7 linked regions of the Homo sapiens genome follow. The protein of the gene in region 3 interacts with the protein of the main gene of each other region in a pairwise test. Each region holds a gene or a part of one and is shown on either strand. Other genes may lie near its edges. The genes, in order: FXYD6, KLRG1, ARL13B, PTPN9, TMEM229B, ANKRD46 and SPN.

The links.
Region 1: the proteins of ARL13B (region 3) and FXYD6 interact in binary tests that used the Homo sapiens proteins (3 or more experiments, as listed by UniProt).
Region 2: the proteins of ARL13B (region 3) and KLRG1 interact in binary tests that used the Homo sapiens proteins (3 or more experiments, as listed by UniProt).
Region 4: the proteins of ARL13B (region 3) and PTPN9 interact in binary tests that used the Homo sapiens proteins (3 or more experiments, as listed by UniProt).
Region 5: the proteins of ARL13B (region 3) and TMEM229B interact in binary tests that used the Homo sapiens proteins (3 or more experiments, as listed by UniProt).
Region 6: the proteins of ARL13B (region 3) and ANKRD46 interact in binary tests that used the Homo sapiens proteins (3 or more experiments, as listed by UniProt).
Region 7: the proteins of ARL13B (region 3) and SPN interact in binary tests that used the Homo sapiens proteins (3 or more experiments, as listed by UniProt).

The regions. Positions count from the first base shown.
Region 1 is NC_000011.10:117,866,659-117,870,158, forward strand, and holds part of FXYD6 (FXYD domain-containing ion transport regulator 6 precursor), read right to left. Parts: intron 1-3,500. UniProt on the Homo sapiens protein: Associates with and regulates the activity of the sodium/potassium-transporting ATPase (NKA) which catalyzes the hydrolysis of ATP coupled with the exchange of Na(+) and K(+) ions across the plasma membrane.
Region 2 is NC_000012.12:8,988,287-8,992,345, reverse strand, and holds the start of KLRG1 (killer cell lectin-like receptor subfamily G member 1), read right to left. Parts: upstream 2,801-4,059; 5' UTR 2,711-2,800; coding exon 2,629-2,710; intron 2,135-2,628; exon of another isoform or gene 2,001-2,134; intron 141-2,000; coding exon 36-140; intron 1-35. UniProt on the Homo sapiens protein: Plays an inhibitory role on natural killer (NK) cells and T-cell functions upon binding to their non-MHC ligands.
Region 3 is NC_000003.12:93,983,155-93,986,654, reverse strand, and holds part of ARL13B (ADP-ribosylation factor-like protein 13B), read right to left. Parts: intron 1-3,500. UniProt on the Homo sapiens protein: Cilium-specific protein required to control the microtubule-based, ciliary axoneme structure. May act by maintaining the association between IFT subcomplexes A and B. Binds GTP but is not able to hydrolyze fit; the GTPase activity remains unclear.
Region 4 is NC_000015.10:75,502,816-75,506,315, reverse strand, and holds part of PTPN9 (tyrosine-protein phosphatase non-receptor type 9), read left to right. Parts: intron 1-312; coding exon 313-641; intron 642-3,276; exon of another isoform or gene 3,277-3,313; intron 3,314-3,500. UniProt on the Homo sapiens protein: Protein-tyrosine phosphatase that could participate in the transfer of hydrophobic ligands or in functions of the Golgi apparatus.
Region 5 is NC_000014.9:67,478,722-67,482,221, reverse strand, and holds part of TMEM229B (transmembrane protein 229B), read left to right. Parts: intron 1-3,500.
Region 6 is NC_000008.11:100,532,260-100,535,759, reverse strand, and holds part of ANKRD46 (ankyrin repeat domain-containing protein 46), read left to right. Parts: intron 1-2,448; 5' UTR 2,449-2,551; intron 2,552-3,299; exon of another isoform or gene 3,300-3,404; intron 3,405-3,500.
Region 7 is NC_000016.10:29,666,932-29,669,153, reverse strand, and holds part of SPN (leukosialin precursor), read right to left. Parts: 3' UTR 1-2,222. UniProt on the Homo sapiens protein: Predominant cell surface sialoprotein of leukocytes which regulates multiple T-cell functions, including T-cell activation, proliferation, differentiation, trafficking and migration.

The sequences.
Region 1 (3,500 bases), on a different chromosome or scaffold from region 3:
ACAGGCACTCCTGTGTCCCTCTCAGCCTCTGTCCATCTCACAGCTGCTGAGTGCCCCGCTGCACTTTGCCTAGCAGAATACCAGTGCATTTATGCTGAGTACTGGATGGAGTCCCAGACCAGTTGTAGGCTATCCTGTCCACTGGAGCTCAGCTCAGGGTGGGTGCCAACAGAACTACTAGCCGGCAGCCTTTCACCGTGGGCTGCAGAGCTGCAGATCACCTTTTTTTCTGGTATGGCTCAGAATTAGATGAGGGTGTAGAATCGAAATAAAGGCCACCCCTACTCAAAAATGTATCTGCCTCCACAACAATTCTTCCCAAGGAGAGACGTTTAAATGTCACGGCATCACTACAAGAGAAATACTCCCAATCCTAACAGTCATTTATATCTTGGCCTGAGTTATTTAATCAGATTGCTTTCCACAGCAGAGAAATTTGCCTGCATTTAGGTGGAGAAATTGGGGGAGAAAGAGCGTACTTTTGGAACAAGGTGTAATTTTGGAAACAATGGCACCCTTATCCTTCCAGTAACCAAGTTAACAAATATTTATTGATGGCCTAATGCTTTCCAGCACTTCACTCATCACTGAGGACACTGCAGTGAGCAAGACAGACACAATCCCTGCCTCCCTGCCTGACGGAGGTTACGGCCTCACCAAGTTTCCGGGGCTTCCTCTCTCCTTCCCCATCTCCACACTGCATCTGTGGCAAAGTCCTAGCCATGCTCGCACTTGCAGTATCTCTCTAATTGGAACTTCCTTTCCGTCACTCCTCTGGGTAACTTACCTAATAGTGCAGTAGCTGGACCCATCTTTAACCTCCTCCTTCCCCTCTGTGCTGGACACTGATTACTGCAGGACTAACCTTTCTAAAGTGTATTCTGAATACCTCCCTCCCAAACTCAAAGGCATTCGGTGGTGCCTCTACGTCCTATTTAGTTTTTTAAAATCCAAACTTCTTTCTGGCATATGAAAATCTCTAAGTGTACCTCTCTTCTACCCCTCCAGTATCTTCTCATTACTTTCAGCTAAGATGGTCTACGTTCCATCTTCTGCCACATGTGTCTCTAACTGCGTGCCTTTGTATATTCTGTTCCTTCTACTTACAATGCCCTTCCCTTCTTTGTTTATTCCAGTTCTCAACCCTGGTTGTACCTTAGGATCACATGAAGAGCTTCAGAAAAAAAAAAGAAAGAAAGAAAGAAAAGAAAAAAGATGCCTGGAAATCAACTCAGCCACATTCAGCTCTAAACCCGGGCAGTGTAGCCAAGGGCAGTGTAGCCAAGGTATCGGTAATTTTGAGAATCTCCCCCACTCATTCTGATGTGCAGCCAAGGTTAATAAATGCTATCTTTGTCCAGCTGCCACTCCACGTAGACCCCTTTCTCCAGACTCCAAGAGCGCCTGTCGCCTGTCGTTGGCACTAATTTGGCGCATAGCACATTCTGTTTCATGCTCGCTTCATTAAGATTCTCCTATCGGAAAAGTCTCTGTGCTACCCCATGATCTGTCCTCACCTGGGATGGTGAGGACGGCCGAAAGTGCTGGCTGATGGTTTGGTATGTTTGTCTCGAGGAGCGGAGAGAACACAGCTCCAATCACCAGGCCTTGAAACTGTGCTGCGTGGGGGGCATGAAAGGGATGGAAAACCCAGTCCCATCAACGTCAACAGCAATGAATCATCCTGATTGTATCGTCTTGGTGTGATGTGATGAAAATGGCACTTTCCCTCTGTGATCTTCCTCCCTAAAACCCATCACTCCAGTCTAATCATGAGGAGAACATCGAACAAATCCCAACAGGGCCACATCCTACAATACACCTGACCAGTGACCCTCAGAACTGTCAAAGTCCTGGGAAGCCTGAGAAAAGGTCACCACCCAGAGGCACCAAAAGAGGCACGACTCAATGGAGTGTGGTATCCTGGATGGGATCCTAGAACAGAAAAAGGACATAAGGTACAAACGAACGACATTTTAATAAAGTGTCAATGTTAGTCAATATTATTGTACCAATATTTGTTCATTAATTGTAACAAATGTACCACCCTAATGTAAGATCGTAATAATAGCAGAAACTGCATGCCAGGGGAGAAAATTGGAACTCATACAATCTGCCCAAGTTTTCTGTAAATCTAACTGTTCTAAAAAGATAGTCTATTCGTAGAAAAATAATAAAAATTCAAAAATTCAGTTAAAAGCAATCCTCAACCCCATCCCAGCACTCCGGCTCCTGCTCACCTTTCCGGCATTTGATGAATCTGTAACAGGAGCTGGGCTTCTCTGGTTCAGAGCCTCAGAGCAAACAAACAACCATCAAGGGCTTTTAAAGCTGCCTTTTAAAACAAGTGCTTTGGGTCGACCAGAGGCCACAGATCCATCAGTGGAAAATGCAACCAGTTCCCTCAATTTGCATTTTAAATGCCCATCAAATAAACAATTAAGCATCAATTATTGTTAAATCACCTAACTTGAAATGATTGCCCGCCCCGCCCAGCCAGCAATGTTCCAGAGAGGAGTCGAGGAGGAGACTGGACTCAGAGACTGGCAAGGGAAAGGACAGAGCAGAGGGTGGTGAAATTCCAGCAGTCCATGGCTCAAGGAGGCTGCAGACACTGCTGAATTTCCCAAGCTGCCAGGAAGGCAGCTGGACAGTCTAGGAGCAGGACAGGGCACCTCCGCCCAGCGCATCACTGTGGCTGACACCTCCCAGGGTGGCCTTTCCCTCTCCTGTCAGGCGCCTTCAGTAGCCCAACGGCTCGAATGCTGCCCCTCCAACCCTCATTCATGGAAGAGGGGCACTCCCACTGCGAGGGTGCTGGAGGCTGAGTCGTCAGGTACCCTGGACTCAACCGGCCCAGACCCAACCCAGCCCGGCTGCACAGGGTGGAGCGGGAGAGGCAAAACTCTCTTGTCATATAGCAGGGGACTTATTTTTAACCTGGAGGCACCTTTATCTTTAACATGAAAACATGAAGTTCTTTCTAGGGAAGAGAAACTTGGACAGAGGAAAAAGAAGAAGAAGAAGAAGAAGAGAGAGAGACAGAAAATAACTGACTGTGAAAAGAAATAAGGCCTCTTCCTTAGAAACAGAAACAGAATTCACAAATCACAAATCCAGGCCTGTTTTCTGGAAGTCTCCCTGGAAAGATCCCAAGCTGGACCATAAGCGGAGGCATGGTGGAGAGATCTTAGCCTCTGGTCTTTCAGTGCGTGCCGGCCTGGCTTTGTCCTCCAGCTGCATGCGGGTCACTGTCATTCCAATCACATCCCCTCATCCTTGGCCCTCTCTGCCCACATCAGATATTCTGAACTGGGGCAGCCCCATTCTCTGGGCCCCAGCCTGGTCCGTGGGGCCCCAGCCCCCTTCCCAGGTCTTGCTGTCACCTCACCATCACTGACAACCGTGACACTGTGGCATCCCAGCCATCACCCATGGACTTCTCACAACAGCCCTCAGAAGCAGAAACACAGAACAGTACTGCGAGGCCAACTCAGGCA
Region 2 (4,059 bases), on a different chromosome or scaffold from region 3:
ATGAAAGATTAATTTTGGTTTAAGTTTGCACTTACCCTGGCACAGGATCCACTGGTATAGCAGCACACTCAGAAGAACTGCAGTCAGAAGCCCCAAAGCTATTGCCACAAGGCAAGAACAAGAAGGCCTGGAAGAGGAAGCTGCAACAACAGAGTCAAAGCACAATCCTGAGTCAGATGACAGGTTGAAAGAAAAGAGAAAGTCAGGGAAGGATATCGCATCTTAAAGCAATTTGGCCTAGTGGGAACTGAGATCCAGGCCATAAAGATTCCTTTTCTAGATGTGTCAGGAACTTGCTCTAAAGTCTAAGGTAACCACCAACACCTGTATCAAAGAACTTACTATATTTATCAAGATAAAGAATGCTTTTTTCCTTTGAAACTGTGACTTACACTGTCTCATACTTAGGTGGTGAGAATACAAATTGGTACCTCTTTGGAGGACAATTGGGCAATATCTACCAAAACGGCAAAGGCATGTACCCTTTGACCTAGAAATTTCTCCTTAAGAAATTTTTCCTACAGATACTCGCGGGTGCAAAATGTCATATTTATTCGTGGCAGCAATATTTGTAGGAGGAGAAGACTGAATACAATCTACATTCTATCAGTAAAAGGCCAGTCAAATACATTTTTGATATATCCATAAAGTGAATATATAGCTTCTAATAAAAACTGGCTTTTTTTTTAACTGATATGGAATATTTTGTAAGATATATAGTCAAGACAAAGAAACATTCTGCAGAACAGGATATACAAATATCTCTGCAAGCACACTCAAGAATCTGATAACATTGTTTGCCTCTGGAATGGAAAAAACAGTCACTGGAGACAAAATAGGAAAAAGACTTTTTACCCTATTTTCTTTTGTACCTTTTGAATTTTGAACCATGTAAACATATTATCTACTCGAAATTGAAATACATAAAATTTAAATAAAAATAATCTACATTTCAGAAGTGCTTTGTAAACTGTCGTTATTAAAAGAGCAGTAAGTTTAAGTTGATGCCAAGTTTAAGAATAGGACACTACTTCATGTTAGCTGTGTTGCATACAACCGAAATCTAAATTTTAAATTTGAAAAATGGAAGTATTTTCAGCAAATCTTTATTTTAAAATCAAAGGTATCTCATAGTGCAATAGTGTAGAAATTACGTGTAACGAGCAAAACTCTGTGAAGTAAGATGATATTTAACTTCTAATTTTGATTCCTTTGCTTAATAACATTTAATTAGGAAATTAAACTTGCCTATTTGGGCTTCAATTTTCTGATTAAATTTTAGATAAATTATTCTATATATGTGTGTATCTATGGAGTATTCTGAACTTCTTAAAGAAAAAAATTCATAATGAGAGATGCCTTCATAAATAGAGAATTCTGCATAATAAATATTTGGACTGATGAATCCAAAAGCATTAAGATTTCTAGAAAAACTTTTAAAAATACATTTGCATCACAGGAGAACATTTAATGAAATACACAAATGTTCATTTTTATGTTATGCTAAATTTTAAAAAGGTATCAAACCATAATTGAATTTGTGTAACCACAAGCCAATTCAAGAAGTAAAGTAAATTTTTAAAATTTACTTTAAGTATATATTGAAAGCCTCTAAATAGTTCCAACTAGGTTCCAATTTATCACCAGTTGTGTGTGTGACCTTGAACATATACTTTGAGATATGCATTACTTCTAACGTAATATTTCTATTCCTTAGAAATTAACATAGATACAATTCAAAAATAGGAAAAGGTTACACAAATAAAGATATCCAATGCTATATAATTTATGGTAATAGAAATAGGTCTAAATATCCCAAGTATACTAGAATGATTTAGCAAATTAAGGCAACACTCTCAAAAGACATTAAAAATTATAATAGTAAAACTATGTAGTAAAAAGAGAGAAAGCTTAGGGAACTACCCTAAAGAATACACCTTGTGGGAGTTCACTGCCTACGATACAAAATCAAGGATTAATTTTGGCATTTACACTATTACCTGTCTGTCTCAGATAATATTCTCTCAGGGCTCTATGTAAAAATGGCTCTTTTGCCTTCAAATCCTCAGTCACAGAGACTATTATCTGTAGTTTCTTGATACTTTTTCTTCCCTGTCACCATTCTAGTGCAACACTGTGAAGTTAAAAAAAAAAAACAAAACTAGATATGTAAATCAGTTTCTTTCCTGACAAAAATCTTACTCGTATCCACCAGCAAAACTATTGGTGTCCTCCTCATTCCATAGTCAGAAAAACAGCCATACCTAGAATTTAAACAGCTGGTCCAAGGTTACTCCGAATATAACTAAAGAGATAAAATTCTCCCAACAAAGTTCCCGCTTTAGCTAAGAGCAAGAAGGAATAACGGCAATGCCCTAAGTTGGGTTTCTAAGATGCGATCAAAGAAGTGAACAGTTAGAAAAGAGTTTACCTGAGACCTAAGATCAGATCCTGTACCATACACCAACTTTTCATATTCCAACTCTGGACTTTAAACTGAACCAAAAGTATTTCCTCAAATTATCCTCAATTCTTCTGCACCCTCTGCTTTAAACTTATTCTACTCCCCATTCATCCATAGCCTACTGTTGCTATGCATCGTCTTCCATGCTACCTTGGTTAACTCACATTTTTGCTGTGGTCCATAGTCATTCTGGGCTTGGGTTGCCGTAGGCAACTCTAACATGGAATAAATAACACTGTCAGTCATCTTCAGCTAAGATCTTTCACATGCAGTTGAGAGAGTTAAATTATAGAAGTGTGAAGGGATATGTATCAGTGAGGAAACAGCCCAATCTCTAAACTGCTAGCAGGAAACTTCACAAAAGCAGAAGTAATTTTTCAGGAAATGATTCAAATTTGGGGGCTGCCTATAGAAATTAATATTGTAAGTTGCTATTTTTTTGCCCCATGACACTGTAGATGCTCACTAAATATATATTAAATTGATTCCCCATCTCACCTAATTCTGTTGAGCAAGGAAAAATTGCTCTCAAGTCCAGCAATTTCAGTTATGGAAACTAAAATAAAAGTGAGAGTGGTTACTAGCTATGAATTTCTCTCGGAATTTTTTCTCTGCTTTGTTTCCTTCTGAAAAAGTAGATGTATGCCAAATGAGACTGACTTCATCATTTCTTGGAACTTTTGGGCAGTGATAAGCAATAACGAAATGGACTGTTGGGTGCATATGCCTGGAATCACGGGAGAAATAGACTATTACCCAGATATATTTTGTGAATATGACATGACCACATCTTCCCCAAAACCTTGTCCAAATTGTGTGATGGTCTTTACCCTTCACAGTATCAGAAATTCCATTATATTTTTTCTCTTTGTTGTCTTATTTTTTTTATTATTATACTTCATGCAAAGATAACTAAAAAGAAGAGCAAAGTAAACAAATACATTCTAACATCTTAGTAATTTGTTTTTAGTAGGTGAAAAGTTAATAAAAAGTTAGAGTAGGCCAGGTGTGGTGGCTCACGCCTGTAATCCCAGCACTTTGGGAGGCCAAGGAGGGTGGATCACCTGAGGTCAGGAATTCAAGACCAGCCTGGCCAACATGGTGAAACCCCGTCTCTACTAAAAATACAAAAAAATTAGCTGGGTGTGGTGGTGGGGGCTGTAATCTCAGCTGCTCAGGAGGCTGAGGCAGGAGAATGGCTTGAAACCGGGAGGCGGAGGTTGCAGCGAGCCGAGACTGCACCATTGTACTCTATCTAGCCTGGGCAACAAGAGTGAAACTCCGTCTAAAAAAAACAAAAGTTAAAGTAAGGAAACAGAAAGAGTATTGAAACTCTTAAGAGTGGATAAGATCATCAAGATAGACTGCATAAGGATAAAAGAAGAGAAACAGGGAGTGCTTTATATTAATTTGTTTTATATTAATAAAAACAAATATATTTCTGCTTCCAGCCATGACAGAATGGCATTAGACTTACTCTCCAATCAAAATACAACACATGGCAAGACACACAAGGCAGCTATTTTCAGGAACACACAGGCAGCATTGTGATCCTTGAGAGAATACAAAGGTGAGTGCAATGATCACCCTAGCTT
Region 3 (3,500 bases):
TGCAAGTCAAAGAAAACATTTCGCTAAAAACACTAAAATCAAAGTTTGACACATCGGAACTCTATTATCTACAGTATTTAAAACTACATGAAGCAAATTCTAAATTTTAACATAAACATAAATTCTAAAAGTAACAAATACATATACAAAAAAAGACTTTAGAACAAGGTTTTATGATACATATGTGAGAATTTTAAAAAATCACTATACGACAAATTGATAGAAAGAAAAAAATGTATCGAAAAAACAGTGTGATTTTATTGCAGTACACTATTTTCTGACATTTCAATTCAGATCTAGAACCCCATATTACAGCAAAATCATTATCTAAATTTACTGAGTATGAATAAATAGTGAGAAGGCCAAGCTTGGGTTTATAGCCTGCTTTTAAGCCCTGATCAAGTCAAATTCTTAGTGTCCATTTTTTCATCTCTAAAATATAAGGGGGTAAAATAAGAATGTCTCTAGGTCCTTTTCTATATTAAAATTCTAAAATTCTTACTATGCATAATCAAGAAGAACTAGGGGGATAAAAAGAGATGTAAAATATTCCAGTTCAGCATACAGCACAATAGATAATCCTTGCTAATCTGTACATACAGCTTAATTGGAAAATTAAGAACTCAGCAATTTCTATAAATGGTCTAGATTTACAGTTATATTTATTTAGGCCAAGAATGATGGTATTAGGGAGCTAAGTATTCCCTCAGTGAAAAAGTTCATAGCAAAGAGGACAAAACAGACCACTAGAAACATTGTGTACTGTATCTTATTTTAGACTTGGCCACAGCAAACAATTTACTAATAAATTTGAAGTAAAGCTTTGATAGGTTGTATTTGTGATGCTGAAAAAACACAGATGGACAAGAAATCAGTTCCAATTAAAGGTTAACTCTGTGGAAGAATGGTGGGAGATGAATAGGGGGCAGGAAGTTTCAAGGATTTGTTACCTACTTATTAAAATAAAATTGAAATATGATGACTAAAGATTAATATTTATAAAACCTGGCAGGCATATGGTACTTATTATATCTTTCTTTTTGGTTAAATAACAGTAAAAACATTTTTGTTAGTTATGTATGCATAATATATAAGAAGTTATATAACATGTATATTTTCATATAAACAAAGAATTTTGTTGCCAAAATTTGTATGCAAAATTTGTTGCATGAATTTCTTCAAGACCCAGGTAAAATTACACCCCTTCTAAAATCCTCTTTCCTGATTCTCATTAAAAATCTTAAAAATCATATTTCAACTCTTGCATATTCGATCATTATATTTTACATGCACTATTTCATCACCTAGATGCTATGTTATAAATAACAGGAGCTCAAAATCTGTAGATGAGAATGTGTAAGGGTTAGAATCTGCTATAAGGCCCAGAGATTTACTGAGCATCATAGCTTCACAGACCTTGTGTCCTGTACTCAGGATGAAGGCTGCTCCCTATAAGCTAAATAGATTGCAATAGATTAACAGTTTTTAATGTTAAAAATGAAAATATAAAACTACAAGAAAAAAGTATATGTGAATGTAATCTTGTAATGCTGATGAACTTTCTAAACATTACACTGAAACAGTAATATATTTGAATTTAAAATTTTTATTTAGTCTTATTGATTGATTGATTGATTGATTGATTGAGACAGGGTTTCACTTTGTCACCCAGGCTAGGCTGCAGTGGGGCAACCTGGGCTTACTGCAGCCTCCACCTCTTGGGCTCAAGCGATCCTCCTGCCTCAGCCCCCCAAGTAGCTCGGACTACAGGCACATGCCACTACTTCTGGCTAATTTTTTAAAACATTTTTGTACGGATGGGGTCTCACTATATTGCCCAGGCTGATCTCAAACTCCTAGGCTCAAGCGATCTTCCCAAGTGCTAGGATTACAGGTGTGAGCCACCACACCCAGCCTGAATTCAAACATTTTAAATGTTTATATTTAAAAAGCACAAAAAGTTGAAAATATAACAAATGGAAAGAAAATACTTGCAATATTATACAACTGATCCTTGAACAACACACGTTTGAACTGCACAGTTCTACTTACACACAAATTTGTTTTTAATGAAAGTTACACGTGTGCCTTCCTCTCCTGCCTCCTCTGCCTCCCCAGCCTCCATTTCCACCTCTTCTGCCTCTGAAACCTTCCTGAGACAGTAAGACCAACCCCTCTTCCTCTTTCTCCTCAGCCTACTCAATGGGAAGAAGATGAGGATGGAGACTTTTATGATGATCCACTTCCACTTAATAAATAGTCAATGTATTTTTTTCTTCTTTTTAATTTTTTTTTTTTTAGACAAGAGTCTTGCTCTGTCGCCCAGGCTGGAGTGCAGTGGCATGATCTCAGCTCACTGCAACCTCTGTCTCCCAGGTTCAAGTGATTCTCCTGCCTCAGCCTCCCAAGTAGCTGGTATTGCAGGTGCCCACCACCACACCCAGCTAATTTCTGTATTTTTAGTAGAGACAGGGTTTCGCCATGTTGGCCAGGCTGGTCTTGAACTTTTGACCTCAAGTGATCTGCCCACCTCAGCCTCCCAAAGTGCTGGGACTACAGGCGTGAGCCACCGTGCTCCGCCCCTTATGACTTTCTTAACATTTCCTTTCCTCTAACTTTAAGAATACAATAAATTATACATATAACATAAAAAATATGTGGTAACTGACTATTCATGTTATCAGTAAGGCTTCTAGTCAACAGGAGGCTATTAGTAATTAAGTTTTTTGGAAGTCAAAAGTTATATGTGGATTTCTGTCTGTGCTGGCAAGGCAGGGTTCAGTGCTCCTAAACCCTGCGTTGTTCAAGTGTCAATTGTACTACAGAGAAACAGTAGCTACGACAAACACTTAAAATTTCTTTTTAAAAATTCATTAAGAAAACACACCTGCCCCAATAGAAAAAACACAACAGTAATCAATGGACAACTGCTGAGAGAAACAAAAATGCGCAAGGAAAAAAAGTTAATCTTCCTAGTAATAAAAACAAAACAAAACAAAAAAAACCCCAGAAACTCAAAGCAGAAAGCAGGTTCCCCTATAATGTGAAGGAGATGAAAAACCGATGACTCTTGATTTTCTCAGTGAAAAAGGCACTCCAACGTACTGTTGGTAGGAGTAGAAACTGTGTTTTCTCTTTTTTAATCCTTTCTGAGGAGCAATTTGGTAACATATTTTTAAAAGATAAACTTAGGAACAATAAAATTTCAAGAGTTTATTTCCACATTCATTGATTCATGAATGGAGCCGTACCAAACTGAACCAAAATTCATGAATGGGGCCATACCAAACCCCAAATAAGTGGGGTTCAGTACTCCACTAAGGGGGATGAAGCGTTAAACTTTTATAAGATCTTGACTGCTGACCTAGACTGGTGCCTTAACACTTGATCTCTGACTCCTGCCTTGTCCTTATCACACAAATCTAATCCCTGATTCCAATGTCTGGAATAATATGCTCACTAGGAAAGGATCTAAGTGAGGAGAGGTGAACAAATACAAT
Region 4 (3,500 bases), on a different chromosome or scaffold from region 3:
TGCTGGGAAGCCTTGTTAATAATATAAAGCTTTTGTTCACTACATCGTCCTTTCAGAAGATGTATAACAGTGTCCCTAATTCCAGGAGTGAATTTTATATACATTCTGGGAGTTCACACTTTTATCTGGCAAATTCATAGGACTTAAATCTCAGGCAGATGAAATGTAGTCTACTACTTTTACAAGTATACCTTGTATTTCAAGAAAATCTTATCCCATCCTCCAAACCTGATATAAATACATTTATTCTTTGTCACTCTATATGCCTTTCCCTCCTCCCACATACTCACATGGTTCTTTCTAACCTTCCAGATTCAAATATTAAAGACATCTGAGGTCACGCAGCATCTGCCCAGGGAGTGTCTTCCAGAAAACCTGGGTGGGTACGTCAAAATTGATCTCGCCACTTGGAATTTCCAGTTCCTACCCCAGGTGAACGGCCACCCAGATCCCTTCGATGAGATCATCCTGTTCTCCCTCCCTCCTGCCTTAGACTGGGACTCAGTACATGTTCCAGGTCCCCATGCTATGACCATCCAAGAGTTGGTGGACTATGTTAATGCCAGGCAAAAGCAAGGAATCTATGAGGAATATGAAGACATTCGTCGTGAGAACCCTGTTGGCACTTTCCACTGTTCCATGTAAGTAGAAAAAGTTTGGGCCAGCAGCTGGTTACCAGGATGCTTCTGGTAGGCTCTGGCAACAGCTCCTTCCACCCCTCACTTGCTTAGCAGAGACCCTTCCTTATGTTAGGGAACATCACTCTCACATAAATGATGGTTTCTCGCATGCAGAAAGAGGTACTTTCTGCTTTGGTGCTTCTTTTTTTTTTTCTTTTTTTTTTAAATTTTTATTTTTTTTATTGATCATTCTTGGGTGTTTCTCGCAGAGGGGGATTTGGCAGGGTCATAGGACAATAGTGGAGGGAAGGTTGGCAGATAAACAAGTGAACAAAGGTCTCTGGTTTTCCTAGGCAGAGGACCCTGCGGCCTTCCGCAGTGTTTGTGTCCCTGGGTACTTGAGATTAGGGAGTGGTGATGATTCTTAACGAGCATGCTGCCTTCAAGCATCTGTTTAACAAAGCACATCTTGCACCGCCCTTAATCCATTTAACCCTGAGTGGACACAGCACATGTTTCAGAGAGCACAGGGTTGGGGGTAAGGTCACCGATCAACAGGATCCCAAGGCAGAAGAATTTATCTTAGTACAGAACAAAATGAAAAGTCTCCCATGTCTACTTTCTACACAGACACGGCAACCATCCGATTTCTCAATCTTTTCCCCACCTTTCCCCCCTTTCTATTCCACAAAACCGCCATTGTCATCCTGGCCCGTTCTCAATGAGCTGTTGGGTACACCTCCCAGACGAGGTGGTGGCTGGGCAGAGGGGCTCCTCACTTCCTAGTAGGGGTGGCTGGGCAGAGGTGCCCCTCACCTCCCGGACGGGGTGGCTGGCCAGACCCCCCCACCTCCCTCCCGGACGGGGCGGCTGGCCAGGCGGGGGGCTGACCCCCCCACCTCCCTCCCGGACGGGGCGGCTGGCCGGGCAGAGGGGCTCCTCACTTCCCAGTAGGGGCGGCCGGGCAGAGGCGCCCCTCACCTCCCGGGCGGGGGGCTGACCCCCCCACCTCCCTCCCGGACAGGGCGGCTGGCCGGGCGGGGGGCTGACCCCCCCACCTCCCTCCCAGACGGGGCGGCTGGCCGGGCAGAGGGGCTCCTCACTTCCCAGTAGGGGCGGCAGGGCAGAGGCGCCCCTCACCTCCTGGACGGGGCGGCTGGCTGGGCGGGGGGCTGACCCCCCCCACCTCCCTCCCGGACGTGGGGCTGACCCCTCCACCTCCCTCCCGGACCGGGCGGCTGGCCGGGCGGGGGGCTGATCCCCCCACCTCCCTCCCGGACGGGTCGGCTGGCCGGGCGGGGGGCTGAGCCCCCCACCTCCCTCCCGGACGGGGTGGCTGGCCCGGCAGAGGGGCTCCTCACTTCCCAGTAGGGGCGGCTGGGCAGAGGCGCCCCTCACCTCCCGGACGGGGCGGCTGGCCGGGCAGGGGGCTGACCTCACCTCCCTCCCGGACGGGGCGGCTGGCCGGGCGGGGGGCTGACCCCCCCGACCTCCCTCCCGGACATGGGGCTGACCCCCCCACCTCCCTCCCGGACGGGGCGGCTGTCCGGGCGGGGGGCTGACCTCCCCACCTCCCTCCCGGACGGGGCGGCTGTCCGGGCGGGGTGCTGATCCCCCCACCTCCCTCCCGGACGGGTCGGCTGGCCGGGCGGGGGGCTGAGCCCCCCACCTCCCTCCCGGACGGGGCGGCTGGCCCGGCAGAGGGGCTCCTCACTTCCCAGTAGGGGCGGCTGGGCAGAGGCGCCCCTCACCTCCCGGACGGGGCGGCTGGCCGGGCGGGGGGCTGACCCCACCTCCCTCCCGGACGGGGCGGCTGGCCGGGCGGAGGGCTGACCCCCCCTCACCTCCCTCCCGGACGGGGCGGCTGGCCGGGCGGGGGGCTGACCCCCCCACCTCCCTCCCGGACGGGGGGCTGACCCCCCCCCCACCTCCCTCCCGGATGGGGCGGCTGGCCGGGTTGGGGGCTGACTCCCCCACCTCCCTCCCGGACGGGGTGGCTGGCCAGGCAGAGGGGCTCCTCACTTCCCAGTAGGGGCGGCTGGGCAGAGGCGCCCCTCACCTCCCGGACGGGGCGGCTGGCCGGGCGGGGGGCTGACCCCCCCACCTCCCTCCCGGACGGAGCGGCTGGCCGGGCGGGGGGCTGACCCCCCCACCTCCCTCCCGGACGGGGCGGCTGCCGGGCGGAGACGCTCCTCACTTCCCAGACGGGGTGGCTGCCGGGCAGAGGGACTCCTCACTTCTCAGACGGGGCGGCTGCCGGGCGGAGGGGCTCCTCACTTCTCAGATGGGGCGGATGCTGGGCGGAGGGTCTCCTCACTTCTCAGACGGGGCGGCTGGGCAGAGACGCTCCTCACCTCCCAGACGGGGTCGCGACCGGGCAGAGGAGCTCCTCACATCCCAGACGGGGCAGCGGGGCAGAGGCGCTCCCCACATCTCAGACGATGGGCGGCCGGGCAGAGATGCTCCTCACTTCCCAGATGGGATGGCTGCCGGGAAGAGGCGCTCCTCACTTCCTAGATGGGATGGCGGCCGGGCAGAGACGCTCCTCACTTTCCAGACTGGGCAGCCAGGCAGAGGGGCTCCTCACGTCCCAGACGATGGGCGGCCAGGCAGAGACGCTCCTCACTTCCCAGACGGGGTGGTGGCCGGGCAGAGGCTGCAATCTCGGCACTTTGGGAGGCCAAGGCAGGCGGCTGGGAGATGGAGGTTGTAGTGAGCTGAGATCACGCCACTGCACTCCAGCCTGGGCACCATTGGGTGCTTCTTGCTAACATCCTATGCTCTGAAATTTCTGAAGGTCTTTGGTACCAACAGGATAACCCTGTTGGACATATTTTTGGATATTTTTCTGAAATGCAAGTTTTTTTTAAAAAAAGTAGG
Region 5 (3,500 bases), on a different chromosome or scaffold from region 3:
AGCCGGTGAGATGCTCTTAGTGAACAGGGCTCTGAAAGCCAGATCCCCTTCCCCTTCCCCATCACCTGTTCCCTTGAAGGGGTAGTTCCTAGACCTCACAAGTCACCTTGAGTCCTGGCCCTTCGATGGGACTCTGTTTGCCCAGGCCCTTTCATCAGGTATGAGGACTCTCGGATTTGAATGTTGTTCAATGAAACCCTGCTTGTGAAGCTATCCTTTGCTCTCCAAACTCTGTCCTCCTGCATTCAACCTTGCTCACACTCTCCTCCTCTTCAATCCACCCTGAATTTCTGTTCCTGGGCTGTCCTATCTTCATGTCACAGGTCTCAGGACAGTTTTGTTTGTCACCAGGAGAAAGAAGCCAAGGTCCCCTGAGCTGCCGGTTCTCCCTGCAGCAGGCTTTCCCAGGGCTCTGATCCCAGGGCTGAGCAAGGAGCTAGTGGAAGGAGCCTAAGGATATAGGGAGTCGGGTGGGTGGAGGCCGGGGCAGGGAATAGAGGCCTGTCAGGCCCTGTATGGGGTGGGCGAGCCTGTCCTAGCTCAAAGTTAAGCACAGCTCCTGTGCTGATTAGAAATGGGTTTGGAGAGTGGGGTTCTGAAAACGCATCCAAGTCAATGCCCAGCCTCTAATATTATCATCTTCCCCACCACACTGGGAGCTGCCACCTCAGCCAATGACACTGTCTCCTATTCCTTTCTCTTCAACCCCATCTTCTGCCCTGACTCAGGTCTTTCATTTCCCCTGTTGGTCTTGCATGGACCAGCTATGTTCTCCTAGTTCTGCCCTCGGACACTGTCTGACATTGCCGTGGTGTGCTTCCCCTCCATCTACTACCCATGGCTTCCTGCTGCCCAGAAACAGAATCTGGGCTTGGGGCACACCATATTTCTCTCTCCCCCATCTCGCTTTTTTGTTTTTCTTTCTTTCTTTCTTTTTTAAGAGACAGGGTCTTGCTCATTGTCCATGCTGGAGTGCAGTGGCACAATCATAGCTCACTGTAGCCTCAAACTCTTGAACTCAAGGGATCCTCCTGCCTTAGCGTCTGGGACTACAGGCACACCACATCAAACCAGCCTACTTTTTTTTCTTTTTGTAGAGATGGTGGTCTCGCTATGTTGCCCAGGCTGGTCTCGAACTCCTGGCCTCAAGCTATTCTCCCACCTCAGCCTCCAAAAGTGCTGGGACTGCAGGCATGAACTCCATCCTCTCTTCTGTTCAGCAACTTCCTGTCTCTCACCCTAGGTTTCTCTCTCCCTTTGACAGCTACCCCTTTCTTCTTGCTTCTGCTCCAAGGGTTTTGGGATCTGACTCTCCCAAGTTACTTGCTGGGGTTGGGGAAGAGACTGGACCCTCCCGTCTGTTACCAGCTGGGAAACCGGTCTGGGCCATCCCAGAGAGATCAGAGGCAAGAAGAGCAGGGTTTAAAGTCAGCTTCAAGGCTGGGGTCTGGCCTGAGTAATGAGATCCACACAGTCATGTCAGGCTGCTGCAGGAGAGCCCCTGTGAGGTTCCTGTTCCCTCAGCCCGGGCCCTGGGGGTTGGAAGAGCCAGGGGGATACGTGCAGGTCATGGGGCCTGAGTTGGGGTAGGAGGTCCAGAGGTCTCCACATCCCTGTGCTGTGCCATCTGTCTCAGGCCCTCAGACCGCCTCAGTGTGTTCCCCTGGAGCCTGGATCTGTTCTCTCCTGCCCGGGGGTAGGAGGTTAAATGAGGGGGTGAGAGGCTGTGCCCCTTTCATTCCACCATCTTTTCAAGTCTGCCCCTCGGGCTGGCTCTGACACCCTTCCTCTTCCATTCATCCCTCGGTAGCCACAGGGAAGCTGGAGGCTCACCTTCAGTCTCCCGGGATGTCTGTGGGAGTTTTGTTCTCCTGAGGGCCATATGTGGGGTTATTATTGCCACCCGATTTCTTGGCTCGCTAGCTTGGTGCTCAGGGTTGTGATGAAGACCTAACCTGCTTGACAGGAAGGGCTGCCTGGAGGCTGCCGAGAGCAGGGGCACAGTGACCCTGCATCGGGTAAGAGGCGGTGTAAAAGCAGGAGGGGCTGTCCAGAGGTCTGGCTCTGTGCCAGAAATGACAGCTGCCCTTTCTGGAGCCTTAGCTGTATTTTAAGTAGTGTATATGTACGAGTTCATTCGTCCTCACAACAGCCTTCTGTGGTCATTACTTCCGTTATCCTCACTTTACCTACAAGGACCCTGAGGCACAGGGTGGTTGGGCAGCGTCCATTAGGTCTCACAGGTGGAAAGCATCAGCCAGGATTCCAACCCAGGCAGTTAGGATCATCTGGGGTCCCTGAACTTAACCAGCTGGCCATATTGAGACCTGTGAGGCATGGTTTGTTGTTGGATGACACAGGAGGGAAGAGCCTGCAATAATTTTACATGACTTCAGGTTTCTTTGGGTTCATTTGCTTAGCAAATTCATTGAACACCTTCTATACACGAGGTATGAATACGGTGAATACATATTCATTCCACAAGCATTTTTTTTTCCTTTTTTGAGACGGAGTCTCACTCTGTCACCTAGGCTAGAGTGCAGTGGCGCTATCTCGGCTCACGGCAACCTCCGCCTCCCAGGTTCAAGCGATTCTCCTGCCTCAGCCTCCCGAGTAGCTGGGATTACAGGTGCATGCCACCATGCCCGGCTAATTTTTGTATTTTTAGTAGGGATGTGGTTTCACCATGTTGGCCAGGCTGGTCTCGAACTCCTGACCTCAGGTGATCTACCCACCTCGGCCTCCCAAAGTACTGGGATTACAGGCATGAGCTACTGCACCCAGCTTCCACAAGCATTTTTTTTTTTTTTTGAGACAGAGTCTTGCTCTGTAGCCCAGGCTGGAGTGCAGTGGTACGATCTCGCTCACTGCTACCTCCACCTCCTGGGTCCCGGTTCAAGCAATTCTTCTGCCTCAGCCTCCCGAGTAGCTGGGATTACAGGCACACGCCACCACGCCCAGCTAATTTTTGTACTTTTAGTAGAGACAGGGTTTCACCATGTTGGCCAGGCTGGTCTTGAACTCCTGACCTCATGATCCACCCACCTCAGCCTCCCAAAGTGCTGGGTTTACAGGGTGAGCCACCACGTCCAGCCTCCATAAGCATTTTTAAGATGAAATTTTAGTTTTATAAAAGTTATACATGCTTGTTAGGAAAAAAAAGTATGCAGAAAAATATAAAGAAAAAAAGCACATATGATATCACCATCCAGAGATGATTGTTGTTTAATTTTTTTGTATATGTGCACATATGCATGCCTTTGCAGAATCGGAGTTAGGTTGAATATTCAGTTTTGAATCCTGCTTTTTTCTCTTACCACTATCTTAAACAAGCATTCCTCAGGAGGCTGCTGGTGCTGGCGTTCAGATGAATCCAGTGAAGCAGAGTGCTCACTATTACCACAGAGAAGGGAGGGTGCAGAAGTGGGAAGACAACTCTGGAGTCAGGGTGCTTAGGAAAGTCCTCACAGAGGAGGAGCTGGGTCTTAAAGGAGGGTTCA
Region 6 (3,500 bases), on a different chromosome or scaffold from region 3:
CTATGGATAAAAAAGGGACAAACTATGGATACACACAGCTACCCTGGATGAATCTCCAGAGAATTATACTGAGTGAAAAGACCAATCCCAAAAGGTTCCTGTATGTGCTGTATGGCTCCATTTATACAACATTCTTGAAATGACAGAATTAAAGAAGTGGAAGACTAGGTAGTGTTTTCTAGGTGTTAAGGAGAGACTGGCATGGGAGGGAAGCAGGAATAGCTAAAAAGGGCAACATATGAGAGATTTTTCATGGTGATGGAAATGTTCTGTATCTTGACTATATCAATGTCAGTATCCTGGTTGTGATGTTGTACTATAGTTTGGCAAGATGTTACCATTGGGGGAAACTGGATAAAGGGTGCACAGGATCACTCTGTGTTATTTCTTACAACTGCATATGAATTTATAATTATCTCAAAAAGTTTAATTTAAAAAAGTCTTTAGTCCTCTTCACCCATTGGACAATCGTTAAATATGTGCTCTGATTTGTATTCACTTTATGACTTCTTAGGGAAGCTATTAACAGAGTCTAGTGAGTAAGGTCTAACTGAGGTCTTGGAAGTTTTCTTGGCAGGTTTCTAGTAATTTAGTCTAATGAATTTGTATAATATTATTATGAAATCATACAAATCTGTAATTTGTTCAAGTGTATTTTCTTATGGGCCATTGTAATATCCAAAGAAAATGGCAGGCTGGTTGCGGTGGCTCACGCCTGTAATCCCAGCACTTTGGGAGGCCAAGGTGGGTGGATCACCTGAGGTCAGGAGTTCAAGACCTGCCTAGCCAACATGGTGAAACCTCATCTCCACTAAAAATACAAAAATTACCCAGGCATGGTGGCACATGGCTGTAGTCCCAGCTACTGGGGAGGCTGAGGCAGGATAATTGCTTGAACGCGGAGGCCTCTGCAGGTGAGTCGAGATTGCACCACTGCACTCCGGCACCAGCGACAGAGTGAGACTCTGTCTCAAAAATAAAAAAAGAAAAAATTGCAGAAGCATTGTCCTTCTTGTGGATTTAAGAGAACATTAGGATTATTTGGGGGCATGACCATATGAACTATAATTCCATCTCTAGATGAAAAACAAAATTTTTTCTTTTTCCCTAATGTGAGCTCTACCACATCCAGAATAACCCACTTGCACCATTTTAATTAACATTGAAAATTAAAGCCAAATCATACATTAGAGACAGGCTCTAGTCGTTAAAGACTCAGCTCTAGAGGTCAGGACAAGAGAGGAAAAATATTAGGCTTTGGGTGAATACATAATATTTGTTTAAGGAAATCAAGGTAAGTGGCTCCGTGATATGAAGTTCGTCTAAATTGATACTGTGGTATCACAAAAGAAGTAGGAAATGAGGAGCGTAGATGTTTTGTGTGTTATCATGTCTTCGTGATATTTACTGACCCTCGTGTGGGACTGGTCCTCAGGTACAGTTTGTCAGCTATTGTCATCAGTTCCAGCCTAGCACTGATAGCCTTTATGATACAACCTGACTTACATATTGTAAATGGAGCTTTGTAAAATACCATTAATTATTTCCCTATATAAATTTGTTCACAGGGATTTGATAACAATGAACAAGGATGATCGGTAAAAAGTTAACCTGTATTTCACCCTGACCAGGAATTTGGGATTTGGACTTGATAGCATGGTATCTGGCACATTGCAGGCACACAGTGAATGTTTGTTTCATGAACTAATATTGCTATTTTTGTGGTCCTTACTGCCTGCCCATGACCCTGCTTCCACGGTCCTTCCAGAGAAGAGCTGAGTGGGCAGACAGGGTGCCCTCGTAGTCTCTCTCAGTGCAGAGAAGTGCAGCCTGGGTGGGGGAGCAGCGTCAGGCTATGTAAAGAAGACTACAGATAGACTTGGGCCAGCTTTTATTTCACACTGAAAAGACAAGGAAGGGAACAGATTTAAAGAGATTTAAGTACCAGCATTCAAGGTAGATTAGAAATACTTTTTCTTAAATGTATCCTGTTTGGTTTAAATATAAGTATTGGCTTTTTAAACTTATTTTTTCCCACTATGAATAGTATTTTATTTATAAAAATGCTTTTGTGGACTAATCTGGGATCTAGCCTCCATTTATAATGTGAAAAATATGCATTCTGAATTCCAAGTAATGACTGAGAGTGAATTTTCGGAGCCCAATTTGTTCTTTAGTGATGGCACATAATTTGATTCTTATTCTTTTATCTTTCTGTCTTGCTTTCTTGTTTGTGGGCCACAGAGCAGCTTCTATTAAGCCCTTCTTTGCTTCCTTTTCACTACTTTGTTACTCGTCAGATATTTTTCTGGCCTCACAAGTTGATGCCTCACCTACAGATTTTCTAGAGAATTTCTTCAGGCTCAGTAACCTGTCTGTATTTAATAGAACAGTGAGTTCTTTTTCTCACCACACTTCTATTATAACTTAATTTTCTATTTACTGTAGATCCTTGCCAGCACATTACAGAATATTTTTGTTGAACCTTCTTGAGAATTCAGAGAAACTGCTGAGTGACCACTGAACGAAAAGATCTAATCTTAAGGCTTACGTGAGTATTTACTACTGTGGACTTCCTCACAAGATGTGAAACCTTCAGTGAACTGCTTTAGGACAGATTCAGTTCTGTGATCAAGATGAAAAATAACTATCATTGGGCTTATTAAATGTGGGATTAAGTTTAGTAGTTGCTCAGGGACACAGAGAAACTGACAAAATACACACTTGTTCTCACCTGAAAAATAGACACAGAGACTTGTATTTCTTGCTGAGCCAACACTCAGAAGTATCCTAGTCTGCAAACCACAAGAATTCTTACTGTGTCTGAATCAAAAACACCAACTAGATTTTTTAAATTATCTATTTTTAAAAATTTAACCAAAACACATTACCTTTTGAAAAGCACTTGATATGTGGCATTTCATTTTGAAAAAGGTTTATGATAGCTTTTCCATTTTTATGATTCAATACTGTGCAAGCTTGTCCAACCTGCAGCCCAGAACAGCTTTGAATGTAGCCCAACACAAATTCATAAACTTTTAAAAAACATTCTGAGATTTTTTTTGCAATTTTTTAAAGCTTATCAGCTATCATTATGTATTTTATGTGTAGCCCAAGACAATTCTTCTTCCATTGTGACCCAGGGAAGCCGAAATGTTGGACACCCTTGCTGTAAGGGAAAATATTTAGATTACCCTCGCAAAAGAATTCTTGACTATTTTATTGAGTAAATTCTTCTCATTGAGTTTTTCTGTTTGTTGGTTTGGTTTGGTTTGGTTTGGTTTGTTTTTTTGAGACAGGCCTCACTTTGATGCCCAGGCTGGAGTGCTGTGGCTCAATCACAGCTCATCGCAACCTCGACCTCCCGGGCTCAAGTGATCCTCTCACCTCAGCGTCCCGAACAGGTGGGACGAAAGGCGCGCGCCACCATGCCTGGCTAATTTTAAAATATTTTATAGAGACAGGGTCTCTCGCTATGTTGCCCAGGCTAGTTTCGAACT
Region 7 (2,222 bases), on a different chromosome or scaffold from region 3:
CTTTAAAAAATATATATATAAATGTTTACTTTTTGTAGACACGGGGTCTCACTATGTTGCCCAGGCTGGTCTCAAACTCCTGGCTTCAAGCAGTCCTCCTGCCTCAGCTTCTCAAGTAGCTGGTACTACAGGCATGCACCACCACGCCTGGCTAATTTTTTGTGTTTTTGTAGAGACAGGGTCTTTCTATGTTACCCAGGCTGGTCTTGAACTCCTAGACTCAAGCAATCCTCCCTGCTCTGCCTCCCAAAGTGCTGGGATTACAGGCATGAGCCACTGCGCTGGATCTGCTCCACGTTTTTTTTTTTTAATTATGTATTTCCACCTGCTATCCCCTCTGCTGGGAATGCCTTTTCCTTTTCCCAGCTTTGCAAAATCCTTCCCAGCCTTCAAATATCTGAGGCAAGCCTGGGCACAGTGGCTCACACCTATAATCCCAGTATTTGGGGAAGCTTAGGTGGGAGGACCACTTGAGCCCAGGAGTTTGAGACCAGCCTGGGCAACACAGCAAGACCCTGTCTGTACAAATTAAAAATTAAAAAAAAAAATTAGCTGGGCATGTTGGTGCACACCTGTGATCGCAGCTACTTGGGAGGCCCAGGAGGTTGAGGCTGTGGTGAGCTGTGATTGCACCACTGCCCTCTAGTCTGGGTGACAGAATGAGACCTCATCTCAAAAGAAAGAATCTCTGAGGCGTCATCTCCATTCATTCATTCATTCATTCATTCATTCATTCAAATGCATATTCATGGAGGATCTGCAACATGCCAGGCACAGCAGCCACCAGGAATGAAGCAGTGGCTGGGTGCAGTGGCTCATGCCTATAGTCCCAGCATTTTGGGAGGCTGAGGCAGGTGGATCTCTTGTGCCCGGGAGTTTGAGACCAGCCGGGACAACATGGTGAAACCCCATCTCTACAAAAAATACAAAAATTAGCCAGGTGTGGTGGTTCTCATATGTAGAAAACAATAAAAATAATTTTTAAAGAAAGGAATCAAGCAGTGGATATGACAAAGGCCACGACACACTCTCAGGTGAAGCCTTCCAACCTTTCGCCAGGGCAATGCGAGCCCTTCTGCTCAGCCACTGGAATCTCTTCCTCAAAGTCTCCCTTGCCACAGTACACATGCATGGGAGAACATGCATGCACACACACATGCGCGCACACACACACATGCGCACACACATGTGCACACATACACACACAGGCACATGCACGCACGCACATGCACGCACGCACATGCACACGTACACACATATGTGCACACACGCATGGCTTGGTAGGCTTCACCTGAGAGTTATGAATGCACCATTTTCCTTGGTGCATTCATAACACTGTTTGTGCCTCTCTTTTATTTATTTTATTTATTTTTATTTTTTGAGACAGTCTCACTTTGTCACCCAGCCTGGAGTACAGTGGCATGATCCCGGCTCACTGCAACCTCTGACTCCAGGGTTCAAGCAATTCTCTGGCCTCAGCCTCCTAAGTAGCTGGGATTACAGGAGCACACCACCATGCCTGGCTAACTTTTGTATTTTTAGTAGAAACGGGGTTTCATCATATTGGCCAGGCTGGTCTCAAACTCCTGACCTCATGATCTGCCCACCTTGGCCTCCCAAAGTGCTGAGATTACAGGCGTGAGCCACCGCACCCGGCCTGTGCCTCTCTTTTAACACTTATATTTTGATATTTTCTGGATTGTGAAAGCCCTGTTGGGTGCCTTCCTTACCCGTACTACCTCTTTTTTTCAGGATTCGCCCAGGACCTGACTAAAACCAGTCCTGGCTTAGAAAACAACCATATCTGTCAAAGGAAAGGGAGGTGGAGCTGAGGACAGCGACGTTCGTTCGGTGACAGTATTTTCTAAACCTGATATGGGGGCTCTTATTTTAACAACTCTAAGACAACAGTGTCTCTAAGGGATTTTGGACATGGCCTCTGTCATTCTGCAGCTGCAGTGAGTCCAAATAGCAATCAGAAAAGGCCACCAGATGCAGCCCAGTGGGTGCCCAGCCTGGCTGGTAGAAGCTGGTTCCATCCGAGCTCAGCTCTTCCCACCCACTAAGCAAGCCCCTTCCCGCTCCCTCCCTCCGTCTCCTCTCCCACTGCACGAGCCCATCCCCCACCTGACCCTTTCCCCCATCTCCTGCCCAGGCCACAGAGCAGGGCTGTCACACTCACATGCCTCCCCTGTCTTTTTTTGCAGGTCAACCTGTCTGCT